Linked DNA regions of Homo sapiens. The main gene of each other region encodes a partner of the protein of the gene in region 2 in a complex. Each region holds a gene or a part of one and is shown on either strand. Other genes may lie near its edges. A codon is read from its position in the direction of its gene.

Region 1 (7,329 bases), on a different chromosome or scaffold from region 2:
ACTTCACATCTGGAGCTAAGAAGAGGAACAGATACTATCATTTATAATTGGTGAGATATACAAGCTATAAGAAGAACTGAAGATAAAGTGTTGTAGGAGAATATAGTGCAGTGAATAACTGATTTTGACTACAGTTTAGGGAAGGCCTCACAAAAGGAGACAAAATTTGTAAATCAATAAAAATGTAAGCAGGAGTTTGTCAGGTAGACTAGAGAGGGGTAGGGATTGGAGAAAGACTTCTTAGGAAGCATGAGATATATGAAAATGACTACTCCAAATACCTTTAAAAAATTGATTTTAAAAAAAGAGGAAAATAAACACTGGATAGAATAAACACAAAATTTCAGTTCATACATTTGTGCTTTCTAAAGCAAGCATTGGGCTGGGCTCGGTGGCTCATGCTTGTAATCCCAATGCTCTGGGAGGCTGCGGCAGAAAAATCACTTGAGGCCAGTTCAAGACCAGCTTGGGCAACATAGTCAGATACTATCTCCACAAAAAATTGAAAAATTAGCTGAGCACCGTGGTGCATGCCTATAGTCCCAGCTACTGGGGAGGCTGAAGCAGGAACATCACTTGAGCACAGAAGTTTGAGTTTACAGTGAGCTATAATTGCACCACTGCATTCCAGGCCTGGTCAAAAGAGCAAGACCCTGTTTCTTTCCATTTTTTTTTTTTTTTTGAGATGGAGTTACACTCTTGTGCAGGGTGGAGTGCAATGGCGTGATCTTGGCTCACTGCAACCTCTACCTCCTGGTTTCAAGAGATTCTCCTGCCTCAGCCTCCTGAGTAGCTGGGATTACAAGTGCACGTCACCATGCTCAGCTAATTTTATATTTTTAGTAGAGACGGGGTTTCACCATGCTGGCCAGGCTGGTCTTGGACCCCTGACCTAAGGTGATCTGCCCACCTCAGCCTCCCAAAGTGGTGGGATTACAGGTGTGAGCCACCGTGCGCCCGGCCAAGACCCTGTTTCTAAGGAAGAAAAAAAGAAAGAAAAAATAAATAAGTAGAGCAAACATTGAAGATGTCCTATTCAACTCTGCCTAACTAGAGATTTAGCTCTCAACTTTTCCTGGTGTTGGGGGTGAGGGGAAATATTCCAGGCAGAGGGAATGGCATGGATATACCACAAAACTGGGAACAAACTTGTCATATTCAAGAATCTGAAACAGGTGCATGCCTTGACCATAGTTTGACACAGTAAATGCTTATTCAATGACAGATGGTGTGACCTTGGGCAAGAGAGACCAAATCAGACCTAGGATGTCAGAAATGCTTTCTCAGGCTTTCAAAAATCAATCTGTTTTCAATTGAGACGCCATTCATTCTAATCTCCCTTACTTTCTTATTCTTCCCACAGCTCTCCAGTCATGCCACCCACGGATGTGGACCATTGTCCTTTACCCAGTCTATCCAGTTCTGAAGACACTTTTTTCAGGTACTACTCCTTCATATATAGGCACACATACAATCGACACTTTTCCAACTCTATGCCTTTGAACCCAGCAATTATTTCACTGGGTGGTGAGTCAGTGGTGCACCCTGGGAGTGGGTCCAGCGCCCTTGGCACATGAAAGCCTTTGAACATGAGGCCAGTGGTGCTACATGAAATACACTCCATCACAATTCTGTCTACACTGGGCTTATGCTCGTCTGGGTTTCTTTCTCTGTTTTTAGATAGAGTCTTGCTGTCACCCAGGCTGGAGTGCAGTGGTGTGATCTCCACTCACTGCGGCCTATGCCTCCTGGGTTTAAGCAATTCTCCTGCCTCAGCCTCCCGAGTAGCTAGATTACAGGCAGGCGCCACCACACCCAGCTAGTTTTTGTATTTTTTTAGTAGAGATGGGGTTTCGCCGTGTTGCCCAGGTTAGTCTCGAACTCCTGGCCTCAAGTGATCCGCCCGCCTTGGCCTCCCAAAGTGCTGGGATTATAGGCGTGAGCCGCCACGCCCAGCCTGGGTTTCTATATTAGAATAATCCTAGGCAAGACAACCTTCTGAGCCTTGCCATTATCACCTGGAAAGCAGTCTAATACTCATTGCCATGCCATGTTCACAGGGCTGTTGCGAGGATAAAATGCAAGAATGATGGGGAAAAAAATCAAGTAATTATAACTGACATTTGTTTTATTCAGAGCCAGACACTGATGCAAAGCATCAGGACGATGCTCTGACGGAGGAGGAAACGTAGGGCTGAGATCAGCTTCGTGTGCACATTGGCTTTGATCAAACTGCTGCACAGCGACCGGCAGCTCCACCCTGGTGAAGCAGAGGGTGGAGGTTAAACGGCTCAGACCCTGGGTCTGGCTCCATCTCTAACCGTGTGACCTTGGGCCTGTAGCTTAACCCGTCTAGGGCTCCGCTTCCTCTTGCGTGAAATGGGGATCACAGAAGGGGTTCAGACGGAACTGAGGGTCCATTTAAAGCTCTGGGCAGTGATGTCTTGGCATGCAGTTCATTTTCACTTTACCATTATATTTGTTCTTACTGATTTAAGGGCAGCACCATGACTTTTGTGGCGCTTGGCGGGGTAGAGGGAAGTGTGGTCAGGAAGCCTGGGGTCTGAGCGGCGCGGGACCTAGGCCGCTCCTTTCCTGAGCTTCAGTTTCCCGCCTCAAAATGATGGGTGGATTGGCTGAGCTACACCCACCTTTCCCGCCCCTCGGCGCTTGGCTGCGCAGCGACCCTCCTAGGTGGGGAAACTCCCACCACCCCATAGGCCGAGGAAGGGGCGGGGCAGGGGTGGGGCCTGGCGAGGGTAGGGTCCGGCCGCCCCACCTGCTGCCGCTCACCTCTAGGCTGTAGTTGCCTCGGATGGCAGTAAAGTCGTCCAGGGCTTCGGCCGCGCTCCCCTCGTCCAGGTTCAGCTCCTGGCACAGGGCCTGTAGCGCCTCCCCGGCTGCGGCGACCACCGCCGCCCCCTCAGCGTGGGGCTTGTCCTCGAACATCCCTTCAGGCCCCGCGGGCTGCGCGCCACGGCCCCCGACTTCTTTCTCCCTCCCAGGCGCGCTACCCACAACCACCTGCGCCAAAGCGCGCGAAAATCTGCAGCTGCGGGACGTGTTGTCATCCACCGTCTGCCTCCGCTTTTCTCCTCAAAAAAAGTCCGTTTTTCCTCCGGAGCTCCTAGCAGTCCCTCCCCGGAAATGTGATAAGAAGATGTACCTCAGATTCTGAAAGACCTGTCCTTGGCCCTTGGCTGGTCGCGGGGGGCCCAGCCGGCGGGACAGAAAAAGAGCGGAGGGATCCTCAGCCCGCGCGCAGAGCCTGCTGGGAGGTGTAGTCCATCTCTTGGGAGATGAAGCCCGCGGCCTCCCCCTGTCTTCCTGGTTAGGCTCTTGGGTTTTGGGGCAGGGCTGGGCTGCCTACTGCGAGGTGGCCTCGTGCAGCGTAGTGAGATGCCTCCTCTATCCACGGGCCCTGGGTTTGTCACTGTCCCTGGGCGCCAAACATAATCTGAGCTGTACCCCTTGAGTTAGGAGATGGAGGCTGGAAGAGAAAAAAGTAGCCCCTGGACGAAGAGGGGCCTCTTGGGACTCTCCCCAAAGTCCTAGTGCCCAGTGAGTGGTTCGCTAAATGACAGAGGGGAAGGATTGGTGACGGATATTAGAAGACGAATCCTCATCTCATGCTAGTCGCTAAAAGAGGCAGGCAGAGAAGACTGCAGTAAATGAGGCAGGAGAATAGGGTCTGGAGGCAGGGAACCTATGGCTGTTTCACGTGACTTCTTAGAACTAAATTGAAAGGAAAACCCCAACTTTCCACGCCTAAGTAACAAAAGAACCAGAGGCTGTTCCCTTGGACCTTTTCTGCATGGCAGATGGGAAATTGGCTGTCTGCAACAAATCACACTGAGCGCCTTCCAGTCTTTGTTTGCAACTTTGTAACTTCACTCCAGCCTCTGAACGGTTGCTGTCCACAACCAATCAGACTGATGGCGGGAGAGTCTTCCTTTGCATAGAAGTATAATTTTGTTAACTTCACCCTGGCCTCTGATTGGTTGCTTTCTGCAACCACTCAGACTGATTGTGGGCTACCACTTCAGTTACATCAAGAGAGCATAAAGTGGCCAATGGGAAACTTCTAGAGGGTATTTGGACCCCAGAAGATTCTGTGTCTGGGCCCTTGAGCTGCTGCGTGGGTTCGCTTCCCCACTATGGAGTGTACTTTTGTTTTCAATAAATCCCTGTCTTCGTTCTTTTGTTGTTCCATTATTTGCTTTGCCTGTAATCCCAGTACTTTGGGAGGCCGAGGCAGGTGGATCACTTGAGTCCAGGAGTTTGAGACCAGTCAGGCCAACAAGGCAAAACCCCGTCACTACTAAAAATATAAAAATTAGCTGGGCGTGTGGGTGCACTTGTGTAATCCTAACAACCTGGGCAACTGAGACATGAGAATAAAGAATCGCTTGAACCGAGGAGGCAGAGGCTGTAGTAAGCCAAGATTGCACCACTGCACTCCAGTCTGGGTAACAGAGTGAGACTCTGTCTCAAAAACAAACAACTGAGGACACATCTGTCAAACCCAGCCTCACCTGCATGCATTTAAAAAAACCAAAAATCAATATGCCCTTCCTTATATTGGTTTTATTTTTTCTTATTATCCCAGGACATGCCCATTTAACCCAAAATTGAGCTTTTCTGAATAGAAAATGAAGTATGGAAGGCCGGTTGCAGTGGCTCACACCTGTAATCCCAGCACTTTGGGAGGCTGAGGCAGGCGGGTCACCAGATCAGGAGATCGAGATCATCCTGGCCAACATGGTGAAACCCCGTCTCTACTAAAAATACAAAAATTAGCTGGGCATGGTGGCGGGCGCTTGTAATCCCAGCTACTTGGCAGGCTGAGGTAGAAGAATCGCTGGAACCTGGGAGGCGGAGGTTGCAGTAAGCCAAGATCGTGCCACTGCACTCCAGCCTGGTGACAGAGCGAGACTCCGTCTCAAAAAAAAAAAAAAAAAAAAGAAAAAAGAAAATGAAGTATGGGTAGTGAAATAGATTTACTCTGCCCTTCAGTTTTGAGCCAGATACACATGAAGGTTGTTTCTATTTTGATCCCATTGTGTGATAGCCTCTATGATTAGCCTCCCTGTTGTGGTTTAATATTTCAGAGTTCTCCCAAAGCATGTGGTTGGAACCTGATTATGACCTTTAGGGATTCCAAGACTAAAAAGATTATAGTGTGTACCCTTCCAAATGTAATTCAAAATATATGCAATTCTAAATCACAAAATAAGTGTAAGAAAGTACAAGAAAGTTCTAACTAATTTTCCCAAGATGTCTCATTTTGAAATTCTTAAATTTTTTTTTCTTTTTTTGTCCTCCAGCTTTGCTATGCCCTAAGCAGAAAATCAGTCTGCACTTGCCCCTCTCAGGACAAACTGCTTGTCTAACCTTCTATTAAAAAAAAAAAAAAAAAAAAAAAAAGCAGTTGATATTTGTGGGGGAGGGGCAAGACCTGACCTCACCATTCTTTTTTTTTTTTTTTGAGACAGAGTCTCACTCTGTCACCCAGGCTGGAGTGCAGTGGCAAGATCTCAGCTCACTGCAACCTCTCCCTCCTAGGTTCAAGCAATTCTCCTTCCTCAGCCCCCCAAGTACCTGGGACTACAGGCACACGCCACCATGCCCGGCTAACTTTTTTTTTTGCATTTTTAGTAGAGACGGGGTTTCGCCATGATGGCCAGGCTGGTCTTGAACTCCTGACCTCAGGTGATGCACCCGCCTCAGCCTCCCAAAATGCTGGGATTATAGGCGTGAGCCACCATGCCCAGCTGGACCTCACCATTCTTAATGTTCTTTTTCCTTGGAGGAAAAACTAAAGTGGTGATCTTTAAGCTGGTTCTGCACTGTGGAAGTAGTGCATTACAAAGATTAATAAAGCCTCTCTACCCACAGAAGGGGGAAAGGATTTGCATACAATCTTAGAAAAGCAAATGTAAATGGCTTTTAGATGTGAAAAGATGCCCAACTTTCTTTCTTTCTATTTATTTATTTATTTATTTATTGAGACGGAGTCTCACTCTTGTTGCCCAGGCTAGAGTGCAATGGAGAGATCTCGGCTCACTGCAACCTCTGCCTCCTGGGATCAAGCAATTCTCCTGCCTCAGCCTCCCGAGTAGCTGGGACTATAGGCGTGTGCCACAACGCCAGGGTAATTTTTGTACTTTTTAGTAGAGACGGGGTTTCACCATGTTGGCACAATGGTCTCAATCTCTTGACCTCGTGATCCCACCCGCCTCGGCCTCCCAAAGTGCTGGGATTACAGGCGTGAACCACTGTGCCCGGCCCCAACCTTTCTAATAGGAAAAATATATATACAAGTTTAAACCGGTATAAAACCATATTTTAATCTATTCAATTGTCAAAAATCCAAAAGTTTGAAAATGTTCTAGTGACTCCCCATTTCTTTCAGGGTTAAGCCAAGCTCCTTGTCCTGGCCTACAAGGCACTAAGGGTCTGGTGGTCCCCTGTCTAACTCTGCCTTCATTTGCTACTCTCTCCTTTCTCACCCTACCGTAGTCATACTTGTGATTCCTTTTGGCTACCTTTTTTTCCTTTAATTTTGAAAAATGCAAACTCAATTTTTTATGTAGTTGTTAACCCCAATGTTTAAAAAAAGTAAAGCATTTCATCCAAATTACTAACTAAAAGATAATAGCTAAGAATACCTGAACCAGATATCAAAGAATTGGGGGTAATGGGGGCCGGGCATGGTGGCTCATGCCTGTAATCCCAGCACTTTGGGAGGCTGAGGTGGACAGATCACTTGAGGCCAGGAGTTCGAGGCCAGCCTGGCCAAAATGGCAAAACCCCGTCTCTACTAAAAATACAAAAATTAGCTGGGCGTGATGATGCTCGCCTGTAGTCCCAGCTACTTGGGAGGCTGAGGCAGGAGGAGAATCACTTGAACCGGGGAGGCAGAGGCTGCAGTAAGCCGAGATTGCGCCACTGCACTCTAGCCTGGGCAACAGAGCGAGACTCTGTCTCAAAAAAAAAAAAAAAAATGCAATTAACCATTAGATACTTCCATTCTTCACCTGCCAGTTTTTCCATTTCCTTTCTTCTTTCCCATATCACCTCCAAGATGTCCCTCCATTGCCCTAGATAGCTCAGCTCTGGCTCTCTGTGTATATTCTTCAACCAAACAAGAGCCTGAGAATCAGATTGATGGTGACTATTTCTAATTAGTCCAAATTAGTCCAGTGTGCCTCTTGGGGGCCTCCCACAATTCCACATGCAGCTTATAAAAGTGGTTGCCCAACACAAACTAATCTCTTTTCCCAGAAAATTTCTGCTTGTAAGAAATTTTTCTCCATTTATGCTTAA
Region 2 (7,023 bases):
TGCTGAGCTAGGTTTTCACAGAATCAAGAAAGTAGTGATGCTCTCTGGGAGAGCTGTTAGCAATTATGCGAAGCTGGGAGAGCTGTTAGCAATTATGTGAAGCTAAATCCTGTTCATTTAGATATTTTAGATAATGTGCTGAAAATTGTCAGTAGAGACACAAATATTTGTAACTACCATGGATCTTAAAATGTGGCTCCACATTCAAAATAGGCTATTGTCTAATCCACTCTGAAAACTTCTTTGAGGTTCTCTTTGTTCTTTTGGGAACACACATCAAAAATGTGAATTGGAACTAATCAGAGGAATTGTTTGTTGAATTCATAACATGATAGCATATATTGTTTTGTTGATCTTATCTAATGTGAATGCAGCTACCAAGTTTTTGTATAATAGTTGCTAGTGCAATCTTGAGCTATTGATTCTGATTTCTTGCTGATTTTATGCTTTGTGTTAGGATGGCATGATTCATTCCTCTGTTTTCGTTATTAATTTAAAAATGTAGATATTTATTTCAAGGTATTATAAGTGTGCATATAGTTCAGAATTTCCAAGTGTCTTAATTACCAAAATAAATTGCTGAGATGTAATTCTTTAAAATTTTAAAAAATAAGTAATGCATCTTTAGATGAGACTGTTTATGAACAGAGAAATAAGATAGGAGGTGACATGGATAGGCAATTAGTAGCTCCTCCTCAGGATTAGTCCATAAGGTGACACAAAGTATTCTTATTGTGTTCTTTTATTTTTGCAGGCTTTGTGTCATGACCTTAATTTCTTTTTCTGTTCCAACATCTGCTAGCTTTTAAATGGAATAATTTCTTTGGTATTTGCAGTGTTTGGGAGATGCTTTGAACATGCTCAGCTATTGTCCCCAAGCAACTGAGTGGGTCAAATTTGAGATTGGACTTGTTGTGGATTTAATAATCAACCCTTTTTGGCTTTAAAATATGACTTGCCCTTTATTTCACTGTTCTCGTTGTCTTTCCTGAACAGGCTGCTGATACTTTGGCTGTGAGGCAAAAAAGGAGAATTTATGATATCACCAATGTCTTAGAGGGAATTGACTTGATTGAAAAAAAGTCAAAAAACAGTATCCAGTGGAAGTAAGTTACAAACCAGCACCCTCTTCTGAAACCTTTTTTCTTCTCAGTGCTCTGTAAAATTTGACCTTCCCAATGTTTCTATCTCCCAAATCCTCTATTTCAGTCAGGCCCCTCAGCTTTCCCTGAACACACCTTTCTGGGCCTCTGTGTCACTCCTGTGTTGGGTGTTCCCTTGCTCTCTTGGATATTGGGTTTTCGCTCTTAAAATTCAAATCTTACTTTCTCCCTCAAGCTATTACTCATTTGGCACACATTGCATACTGTCTTGTATTAATCTCTTCCTAACTCTTTACCTGTCCTTGAGAGCAAGAACTACTTTCATAGGAATTTGTACTTTGTAAATAGTAATTAATTGAAACGCATGTTGTCATTAATTGTGGCCTGGTTATACGTTTGAATGTAACAATTTCTGTTCTTCTAATGTGTCCCCTTTGACCATAGTTTTTGTCTTGTTTTGTTTTCGCCAAAATTCCACCAAAACATTAAAATGTTGTAATTTATTTTACCAGCACCTCAGTCACATCCTGAGACTGCTAGGTGTGACTGCTGAGCACACTCTTTTGGTACCCAGTCACCAACCAGTCTGGCCTTCCAGATGACAAAAAAACACTGTAGGGAAGATTGAGAATTTTTGTAATTTGGTTGTTCTTGTCAATAAATTTTCTAAGCAAGAAGTATGGTGTTTAAAATTTTTAAGGATTTTAGTGCTTGATTTTAAGAGTGTAAAGACTTCTGTCTTGAATATATTACTAAATAAGTCAGTTTTATTACAGTAAAAATTAAGTGATATTAACCTAGATCTGATACTGAGGATATTAATTCTCATATGTTTTTAAGAGGTGTAGGTGCTGGCTGTAATACTAAAGAAGTCATAGATAGATTAAGATATCTTAAAGCTGAAATTGAAGATCTAGAACTGAAGGAAAGAGAACTTGATCAGCAGAAGTTGTGGCTACAGCAAAGCATCAAAAATGTGATGGACGATTCCATTAATAATAGATATCCTTTTAAATAAGTTATGCATATACATATAGCTTTGGAATATGTATGTATAAATCATTTCAGTCTAAAGATCATTCACTTTGTTTTTAGACAGTTAAGTTTTATAAGTAAATATGACATTTTAATTTTATTATATTCTTATATACTAATATTTTCTAAATGTTACCTTTTTAAGTTATATAGTACAGATCCGTTAGCGTTATTCCTGTGTTGCACTGAGGGGGAAAAAGAGATTAGCCAACTTTTGGTCTACCAATTGATAGAATGCAGTATGCTAGCCAGTGTGCTTAGGAAATCTGTGAATATTAGAAGCCATTGTTAAGTACATTTGTATTTTTAAATAATTATGTTCAGTGTTCTGAAGTATAAAATTCAGCAGCTCTCAAAGTTTTGAAAATTTTTCGTTTAAAGATGAGATATGATGTGTCCACAATCAATCCTTGATACTTTCTGCCTAACATGAACCCCAAAATAGTTCCTACTGGAGAACAGGGGTCTAAGTCGTGTGTGCCTATCAACAATATATATTGGGGGAAAAACATTATTATATATAATACATATAATATCATATATAATATATAAAATATATTTATATATAATATATAAAAACATTATTATATATATAAAAACACATATCCATGTGTTTCTTACAAACCACCGTCTTCTCTCAGGTATCTGTGATTCTCTTAGTTTATGAACTTACCTGTACTCTTAAAGAAACTAACCACATTTTACCTTGTAGCACCTCATGAAATTTTGACTAATGTATACAATATAATTTACTTTTCACATTTTCATGTATTTGGTGAACAAGTCCATGATCTCATTTGTTATTTCCTTTGTATGGATCAGAGCCCCTTAACAGTTTGAGAACAATGGGAGTTTTCAAGCTGTGTTCTGTGGAGCTCTGAAATTCAAAAGCCATTAATCTATTTTATCTTGGACTTCGCTGCCCTGCTTTACGAGATGCTGGCCATTCCCATTGCCCCAACCATGGTTATGTGTGATATATATAAAGTTTTCTGTATATTATGGTATTTTGACATCTCCATAAACCTTTCTGGCTGAGGAGAGACTGCCCATCCTGGGACTAGCCACTTCTTAGAAACAGCATGGGCTCATGTCCTTTTTAGGGTCATGGATGACGCTGGAAACCATCATTCTCAGCAAACTATCGCAAGGACAAAAAAACCAAACACCTCATGTTCTCACTCATAGGTGGGAATTGAACAATGAGAACACATGGACACAGGAAGGGGAACATCACACACCAGGGACTGTTGTGGGGTGGGGGGAGGGGGGAGGGAGAGCATTATGAGATATACCTAATGCTAAATGACGAGTTATTGGGTGCAGCACGCCAACATGGCACATGTATACATATGTAACAAACCTGCACGTTGTGCACATGTACCCTAAAACTTAAAGTATAATAATAATAAAATTAAAAAAAAAGAAACAGCATGGGCTCAGCCAGGAGCATCCCTTTGATATATAAACTAACCAGTCAAGGTCCAGACCTCCTCTCTCCAGTCCATACACCCCAGGTGGCAATATTCCTCTGCCTTAATCATCCCAGGGTCAGGTACCAGACAACTGGGGGACTACCTGCATAGCTTAGAGCCCACCAAAATTATCCAAACTAGGCCAAATGCAGTGGCTCACGCCTGTAATCCCAGCACTTTGGGAAGCCAAGGTTGGCGGATCACCTGAGGTCAGGAGTTTGAGACCAGCCTGGCCAACAGGGTGAAACCCTGTCCGTACTAAAAGTACAAAAACTAGCTGGGCATGGCAATGTGCATCTGTAATCCCAGCTACCAGGGAGGCCATAGGAGAATTGCTTGAACCCAGGAGGCAGAAGCTGCAGTGAGCCAAGATCACACTACTGCACTTCAGCTTGGGCGATAGAGCAAACTCCGTCTCAAAATAAAACAAAACAAAATTATCCAGACTAGCTAATCGTAGTGTTCTCCCCACCCTGCTTTTTTTTTTTTCCTGAGATGGAGTCGCTCTGTTGCCCAGGCTGGAGTGCAGTGATGCGATCTTGGCTCACTGCAACCTCCACCCCCCGGGTTTAAGCAATTCTTCTGCCTCAGCCTCCAGAGTAGCTGTGATTACAGGTGCTCACCACCATGCCCTGCTAAGTTTTGTATTTTAGTAGAGATGGGTTTCACCATCTCTAGACTAGACTTCTTTTTTTATCTGTCCATGTGTGGCAGCCCCTCTGTGCATATGGTCAGGCTGGTCTTGAACTCCTGACCTCAAGTGATCCACCTGCCTCGGCCTCCCAAAGTGCTGGGTGGCGTGAGCCACCATGCCCAGCCACCCTGCATTTCTTTTCCCAAGGAAACCCCAATAAAAGCTCTGGGCTAATGCTTTCCCCTTGCTCCTGTCTTCTGCCTCCTGACCACCTTGTTGTCTTAACCATGTGGCCCTGAGTAGCCTGCCTTGCCTCCCGTCACTAGGACCTATGAGTATAATACTTTGTTTTTCTGAGCCTTTCTTTAATCCTCTGTGTCCTCTTGTGGCCATACCTGACCATTTAATACAAGAACAAAAAACAACGATCACAGAAAATTCCTGATGTGGAAGCTGATATGGTTGCTGATGGCCTCCTTTTCCCCATCCATTCCCTTCCCCCAGAAACCTTTGCCTCCATGAAGAATGTGCACTGCTTTCCATCTCTCTCCTAAGGGTCCTCAAATGTCACAAAAATCAGAATGGCTTCTTCTAAGAGCAAAGGATGGGAACTCCTTTGTCTTTACCTTTCTAGACTAGACTTCTTTTTTTGTCTGTCCATGTGTGGCAGTCCCTCTGTGCATATGGTCATTTAGTTATTTTGACCTTCAGATGTATTACCTTAATTTAAATGCCTACGGCTTGATATAAATGTCGTTCCTTAACTCCTATGACAGTACATTTTCCTATGTAACTCATGAAGACATCTGTAATTGCTTTAATGGTAAGTACCATTAGACTTTTCCTTGCATTCTTCCTCTCAACCTATTTAGTGGAGGGTGATTCAGAATTCCCTGTGTCCTCATCCTGTCATTATTTTCAGAAGTTGTGGGCATTGTGTCTCACTCCACCATGCCGTGTATTGATAGACTGCTTTTGTTTCTGTTTTCATGAGAATAGCTGCTTTTCACAGCATTCAGTTCATTAGCTCCACTGGTAGGGATCAACTGTGTGTGGAAGGGGAAGGGGACAGGGACAGAGGGCAAGCTAAATCAGAGCGGGATTAAGCAACTTTCATTGTCACACAGTCACAGAGTTAGTGACCAAACTTGAACTAGAACATGGTTCTCATCAGCATTGTTTATCAAACTATATGCAAGTATGCTGGTCTCAAATGAAACTCAAAGAAACCATAAGGAAAGAATTAGGTGAATCCATCTTATAACCAGGAAACCTATTCCTATGCAATTTGCTGCCCCTGTGTTTTCTCCTTAAAATAACAATATCATGTTAATAATTATAATTATTAATATAACTAAAATGGGGGGACGTGTGTTCCCAAAATTATAGCACAAGTAAAATGAAATTGTGCATATTTAAATTTATGTGTATTATCCACCTATTTAAAAAGATTCTGCCAAGTACCTCATCAAGTGGAATCTGACTTTCTATGTAAGACTATGTTGGAAATAAGTATAGGACTATTGTTCTATTTTACCACTGTATTTCCTGAGTTTTTTAAGGAAGTTTGCTGAGACTTCTGTTAATCTGCAACTCAACAGAGATTTGTTGTAGAATTTGGCTTCAAAAATAATAAAATCATTTAAGCTCAACATTTCAGTGTCTCATACCTAATCTCCACTATCCTCAGTCCAATGAACAGTGTTATTTGAGGCTAAATGGTCTTAAGAATCTCAGACTTTACAGGAGTCTTAGTCAAAGCAAAATCAACTTGAGCTGAATTTGTTAATGAGAATCATACAGCTAACCCATGTATAATACTAATACATGTATTATCTTATTTAATCCTCAAAATAAATCTATGCAGTAGGTTGTGTATCCCCCATTTTATAGAATTGAAAATCAAAGCTCAAGGTCACCTAGTTTGGGATTGAACCAAACACTCTGATTCCAGAGCCCACATTCTTGCCACTGTATTCCATGATCAACAGTATTTTATGTAACTTTTTATATTTATTTTTGACCAGGTGATACACTTTTGGCCATTCAGGCACCTTCTGGTACACAACTGGAGGTACCCATTCCAGAAATGGTATGTAGGATAACTTATGTTTATATAAGTGGGAAAAATGAATCTACTGTCTCAAGAAGGATATTTTCTTTAGCTGAATGTGAGCTAATTGTGTAAACACTGTGAGTTAGTCAAGTTTTTATCTAAAAGTATTGATAGCTGAATTTGTATGTCTTTAATTCCTTGGTAAAATTATAGAACTAAATGAATCATAAATGATTTTAAAGATTATTGGCTATATCCTTAGTCATTTATTGATATCATTTAGCTCAAAGTCAATTTTTAAAAAGTAATCAGAATGCTTTATCAAGTGATTTTTGTTTCATACAAAAATTAAAACTATTGTATAAAATTATCTTCAGGCTATGTGAATAAGGTGTGTATGAAACAAATGAATATTGTGTTTAGACTTGGGTCCTATCCCTAAGATATCTATCCCCAAGTAACCAAATGATTTAAAATGATTTAACATTTTGATTAAATTATTTTAAATTTGAATTTTTTAAGTTAGAGGATGTCAAGAAATGACTAATCATATGGCCAATAATCTATAAAAATAAGTTAAAATGACCACATTGGGCTGGGTGCAGTGGCTCATGCCTGTAATCTCAGCACTTTGGGAGGCCAAGGCAGGTGGATCACTTGAGGTCAGGAGTTTAAGACCAGCCTGACCAACATGGTGAAACCCCATCTCTACTAAAAATA

What was found. The genes of interacting proteins can lie anywhere in the genome.
Region 1: the proteins of E2F5 (region 2) and RBL1 are in contact, whole or in part, in a crystal structure (PDB 5TUV), measured with the Homo sapiens proteins. Residues at the interface, in NP_001942.2 of Homo sapiens: Met162 (codon at 2,083), Ile190 (codon at 6,292), Ala192 (codon at 6,298), Pro193 (codon at 6,301), Ser194 (codon at 6,304), Gly195 (codon at 6,307), Thr196 (codon at 6,310), Gln197 (codon at 6,313), Leu198 (codon at 6,316), Glu199 (codon at 6,319), Val200 (codon at 6,322), Pro201 (codon at 6,325), Ile202 (codon at 6,328), Pro203 (codon at 6,331), Glu204 (codon at 6,334), Met205 (codon at 6,337), Tyr213, Leu217; in NP_002886.2 of Homo sapiens: Ser1000, Ala1001, Leu1002, Leu1003, Tyr1004, Lys1005, Phe1006, Asn1007, Ile1017, Met1020, Ile1021, Gly1024, Glu1025.

The regions. Positions count from the first base shown.
Region 1 is NC_000020.11:37,092,980-37,100,308, forward strand, and holds the start of RBL1 (retinoblastoma-like protein 1), read right to left. Parts: upstream 3,019-7,329; 5' UTR 2,950-3,018; coding exon 2,794-2,949; intron 1-2,793. UniProt on the Homo sapiens protein: Key regulator of entry into cell division. Directly involved in heterochromatin formation by maintaining overall chromatin structure and, in particular, that of constitutive heterochromatin by stabilizing histone methylation.
Region 2 is NC_000008.11:85,201,151-85,208,173, forward strand, and holds part of E2F5 (transcription factor E2F5), read left to right. Parts: intron 1-996; coding exon 997-1,106; intron 1,107-1,943; coding exon 1,944-2,105; intron 2,106-5,026; coding exon 5,027-5,070; intron 5,071-6,274; coding exon 6,275-6,339; intron 6,340-7,023.